Regions from separate parts of the Homo sapiens genome. Here region 2 is linked to region 1. A link means that fine-mapping ties the variant in region 1 to the expression of a gene that starts in the linked region. Tissue or cell type: tibial nerve. Region 1 holds a variant in brackets; the other region holds the start of a gene. All regions are shown on one strand. Distances are from middle to middle.

Region 1 (2,677 bases):
ATTGACATGTTGGACCAGAAATTATTGTGAGGGCTGTCCTGTGCATCCTAGAACATCTAGCCACCTCCCTGGCCTCTACCCACTACATGCCAGTGGTACCTCTTCTCCGTTGTGACAAACAAAAACATTTCCAGACATTGCCAAATGTCCCCTGTTGGCAGAATCTCTCCCAGTTGAAAAGCAGTTTTCCTGTCACAGGAAACTCATCTCAAACTGAGTGCAGCACAAAAGGAGCTAATTGATTTCTATGATGAAAAAGTTTAGGCATGGAACCTGCCTCAAGAACAGCTGGATCCAGAGGCTTAGATGATATGACTTAGGCTCTGTTCCTTTCCCTCTTCCTAAATCCTTTAGTGTTAGCTCCATTTTCATGCAGACTATCTAGATAAGATTATTGCCAAAAATTCTAAAATTACATCTTTCATTTTAGAAATAAAAAAAAAAAATCCTTCAAGCTGGGCAGTCATCCCAGCCACTTGGGAGGCTGAGGTGGGAAGATCGCTTGAGGCTGGGGGGCTGAGGTGAGCCTCCAAGTGAGCTATGATCATGCCACTGCACTCTAGCCTGGGCAAGAGAATGAAACCCTGTCTCTGGAAAAAAAAAAATCTCAGTTCTTCAGTATTAACATTTCAGTCTGATTTGAGTCTCCGGCCCATGCTTGAACTGGCCAATGTAGTAGTTACATGACATATGCTAATATGGCTTGGGTCTGGGTTATGAGCCTTCCCTAAAGGGGTGTGGGGATAGTCTTTACCAAACCCGTGAATCAAGAATAAGAGTGGGATGTGTTTCTAAAGCAAACTTGGATCTAGTACTACCAAAAGGTGGGGATGGGGAGTGGAGGTTGGATACAAAAACTAAGGTTGGCCTCTGCAGGTGACCTTTCCCCAGGGTGCATCTGGCTTGCATTCCTTTCATGCTAAAAAGGAGGCAAGGCTGGCTTCTCAAGCTTCATCCAGACCCCAGGCCCCCTCATTAAGAAATATTAGTCACAAAGCCTTGGAGAATCAATAACACTGAGGAATTGAGACAGCACATAATTCATCCCCTTGGAAACTTTTCAAAAATATTATCTTGCTGATGCAGAGGAGGATTTCTTTACCTACTATAAATTAGGGGGAAAAAAAGAAAAAAAAAAGACAGAAGAAAAAATCTGAGCTGCCTGACAATTATCCTCAGTGTGCATCACTCACATTGCAATCACACCCACACGCTGTGCCAGCACTCCAGCTACCACAGGCACGCACGCGCCCAGCAC[C/A]CTCAGCCACCCTCTCACACACCTACCCCCTCAGAGTCAGCCCACCAGGCTGACAATCACACTGGCAACTTAGCGCCACCAAAGCCTTCTTCTCCCACACACCGCCATTTCCTAGGTTACCAGCTCCCCAGTGCCGAAGGGGCTACAGAAACAGGAAGGAAATGCCCCACAGACATGCAACAAACCCAGCTGCACAGCAAACATGGTTTTGGCAGGTGGAGAAAACCTTCTAACAAACCTTCCCAGAGAGTTAGCTGCAGGTGAAGATCCTGCCCCTGGTAATTCCTACCAGTCTCCTTTCCAAAGTATGAGATGCCAGAAGCACTGGCTAGATTTCAGTAACCAGTTTGGGCCCCCTAAGCATGGGCCATGCTTGCCTGTGCCTGAGCTAAAAGACAAACTGAATGCAGGCATTACTGGGAGAGATGAGCAGCGTATGAGGAGGAGGAGAATGGAGACAGTGCCAGGAATTCCAAAGAGCAGTCCTCCCCCAGGGAGCTGGGTGCCAGGCTCTGTGGGATGGGCAAGAGACATAAATAGCATTCTCCTGGATCCCTGTGGGGCCAGTAGTGGGTGGGCAGCTGGAACCCTCTGTGACCCAGTTAGAAGAAAGCTTTCTGGGGCTGGGACCTGGCCATCTGTACAATGAATAGAATAACTGTGAAGGTATTATTTCCCCAACTGTAAAATGATGATAGCAGTATTTAATTTCTCCCTCAGAGTAGTGTTTTGAGGATTCACTGAAGTAATATATACAGAGTGCATTTGGCAGTGCCTGGCTTAGAGTAAAAGCTCAATAAATATTAGCTAATAAGTTGCATGGTAGACAGAAAATAATACATACCTCCATTCAAAACCTAATTCTAGCACTTACTTGCCTAACCCAACCTCTAGCATCTTCTCTGAGCTTCAATTTCCTCAACTGTCAAATACTTATTCCATGTGGTTTCTATAAAAATGTACCATGCAATCTATGTGAAATTTCCTTAGCTCTATGCCTCGTAACTAATATTTCATAGGTAGCTAGTAATGTTGTCATTATCATCAATACTGCCATCAACCTTTGTACTTTTTCTCTAACAAAACATTATTACATTCAGCATCTTTACTTTCCTTGATACAATCCTATGTAGTATGTAGACATATAGGACAGGTTTTACCTCCATTTTCCATATTAGAAAATTGAGTCCCAGAGAGATTCAATAACTTGTCCATATCAAACCAATTAGGAAGGGGAAGTTGGGATACATGTGGTTTTTGGAATCCTAAGATGATGTTCAGTATATTTTGCCACTATACCTCCAAAGTAGAATTGAGGCCACCAAATCCATGACAGTAATGGCAGCTGCTGTTTGTTAAATGTCTACCAGGCTACAGGTCCTGTTCCAGATACTCTCTAGGCTAGAAAAGAATAAGCAC
Region 2 (2,677 bases), 240 kb after region 1:
CCTCCTCCACCCTACAAGTAGCAAATTGCCTTCCTTTTAATCATCTACTAGTTACTTCACTATCCCTGATCTAGAAAGAAAGGGAGAGAGAAAGAAAAGAAGAGAAAAGAAAAATCATTCCTCCCAGCAAATCAGACTGGTTTAAAATCTCTCTTCTTTCTCAAGGTACTCTTGTTAGGAGAATCTATTCAAGCCAATTCCCAGGAGCCTTTATGAGAGAGATCTTTGCAGAGGAATTTGTCTTCTTCTTTAACACCATTAAACTAATAGGATTTTGCAGACTACCTATTCCCCAATCCCGGCGCCCCCAAACAACAGCCAAGCATCCCGCCCCTCCTCCTCTCACCCCTCCAACAACAAGGCTGTTCGTCTCTCAGTGCTAATTCCTGCAACTGTGTCACTGTCAGGGTGGTACCTGAACCTTAGAGAGAGAGAGAGAGAGAAAGAGAGAGAAACTGAGAGAGGGAATCAGAAAAGCCACCACCGTGAGAAATATACACTTCAACGCACGCCATTTATGCAGCCCCTATGTATGTTGCTCAAATGCTCGGAAAATGCACGCAAATCCAAACGTTGGAAGAGGCAGCAATTCAGACCCGTTCACCGGCTGTTCCCAAAAGAAGGGAACCGGTGCGGCTGGGAGGAGGCGAAACGATGCTAAATCTTAACCCCCCTCTCGTTGGGAAACGACATCTTTAATCGCGCCCTCGCCTCCAGACCTCGGTTCCCGCTCCAGCACGTTAAGCAGGGCGCACTCACCGCATCCCCGGGTTTGGGAAAATAACAACTGTTGGCCCCCCGGAGCGCCGCGCAGCATCCGCACCTCCCTTCTCCCACCTCCTGGTTTATTTTTAACCGCCTTCCATTCATGCCCTTCTGTCACATTCCCGATATTATTTATCCCTCAAATGTCCACTGTTTCTTAACAGCCAAAATAAGAAGGTAGAGGAAAGATACAAAAAAAAAAAAAAAAAAAAAAAGGTATCATACTTACCGTTCCCCGGCGGGGCGAAAAATAAAAATAAAGAAAATCCACCGGCTGGCTTGTTTTTCCCCCTCAAGCTGCAACAGCTGGAGGAGGGGAAGAATGATCCTGGGTGGGGGGCGGGGGGTGGTAAAAGGAATCACTCGGGTTTGGCAGGTGGAGGCTCCAAATATCCACGGAACAAGTTCTGTTGCCTGGCCCGAGGGGTGCACAGAGTCCTCGCGGCTGGAGCCTGGGGGTGGGGGTTGGGGCTGCCCCAGAGAAGACCCCAAGACTCCTGGTTCCTCTGGAGTTCAGCACAGGAGGGATTGCCTGGGAAAGGAAGTCAAGGTTCCCCCGAAAAGAAACAAAATCCTAGACAGCAGCGATCACTTGTTAAGCCCGAATTCCTCCTCCAACATCCATCCCTCTCTCGCTCTCGCTGGCTGCGGGAGCAGCACACGCCTCCCCTGGCCGCGAACGCGCTCTGGGCGGGGGCGGGGCCAGGGCCGAACCGAGGGTGTGGCGTTCGCGACGGTCGCCAGGGGCGCCTCCCGGCGCGGCGGGGCGGGTGCAGTCACGACGCCGCGACTCCCCGCACCCCGGCTGGGCCCCCCGACTCCCAGGATCTGGGATCGATTCCAGGAGTCTTTGGCTGTGGTCCCCACAGGCGAGGAGCAAATCCTGGAGAAGTGTCCCCGTTGGGGCCGGAATAGGGGTTTCGACGGCAGCGCGGGAGTCCCCAGAGGGCTTGGGAGCGGGGAGCTCCAATGGGAGGTGCAGTCCCGAAAATGGGGTCCTCTGGGACATCTCCTCTACCTAACTTGCTTTCTCTATATCTCCCCTCGAGCCCCGAGCCCCGTCTTCTTTTCCCCACCCCATCCCCTCCCAAAGCGGGTTTGTTGGGTTGGGAGCCGGGTGCATCTCCGGCGAGGCCACGGGCGGGGAGCCCTCCTGTGCCTGCCAGAGCGCCCAGATCCCTCAGTCTCCGTCTCCTTTGCACACAGGAGTTGGGAGGCTTCAGCGCCGGGGTTGGGCCTCAGGGGCGCGGAGGAGACCGACTTTCAACCTGTATTCAATCCCGGGCAGGGGAATGTTACAGAAATTGGAATCAGGCCCAGGCTAGGGGCTGCGCACAGGAGGCAGCAGTTCTAGGGGAGGAGGGTTGGAGAGATGAGTAAGTTGCAGGGTGGGCCAGGGGCTGAGGGCTTTGGAAGGCGGGGGAAGAGCCCGCAGCCAACCTGTTGCTGCAAAAACAAATACGGCTCTGGTATCGACTCCCTGAGGGCTCTTTGGATCCTTCAGGACAGAAATCAAGGGATATCGCAGCAAAAAGCAAGTTTTTTTGGTTTTCTTTCTTTCTTTCTTTTAATTAAAGCTTGTGCGCACAAGGGAGCTAACACCAAGAAAAAAAAAAGTGGGCTGTTCCTCGAAGTCAGGGTGTGGGTTTCTTTTACGGGCCTCTCCCGTAAGGGGAAATAAGGAGAACTATAGACAGGGCATGTAGAGGTGGAGTTTTTCTGGTGCATGCATGGTGGTTTAACATGCTTCTTCATAGGACGTATGTATCATTAGCATCTTAAATCTCCACCTCTGGGAAAGATTTTTTGCATTAAATTAAGGAAAAGGTCACTATGAGTTGAAAGTTAAACCTAGCCGCCGCGCATGCCAGGGCCTCGGGCAAGTCCCTGGTCCCCTAAAGCCGAAACTTCT

Alleles and levels. Alleles are on the strand shown, and positions count from the first base shown. SD is a standard deviation of normalised expression in the study named.
For the expression in tibial nerve of the gene that starts at base 1,453 in region 2, allele C in region 1 goes with a lower level than allele A (large effect, 1.0 SD a copy in GTEx).

The links. PIP is the estimated chance that this variant, and not a neighbour inherited with it, causes the effect. A credible set is the group of variants that fine-mapping cannot tell apart.
Region 2: KCNA4 starts here. The variant in region 1 is the best candidate, but not a certain one, in a credible set for the expression of KCNA4 in tibial nerve (GTEx, PIP 0.88).

The regions. Positions count from the first base shown.
Region 1 is chr11:29,779,716-29,782,392 of GRCh38, forward strand. No RefSeq gene overlaps it. Among named protein-coding and RNA genes, the nearest start is that of LINC02546, 190 kb to the left of the region's middle. The variant C/A (reference allele first, on the strand shown) is at 1,259.
Region 2 is chr11:30,015,578-30,018,254 of GRCh38, forward strand. It overlaps KCNA4 (potassium voltage-gated channel subfamily A member 4), which reads right to left and starts at 1,453. Exons shown (of 2, transcript NM_002233.4): 1 at 995-1,453.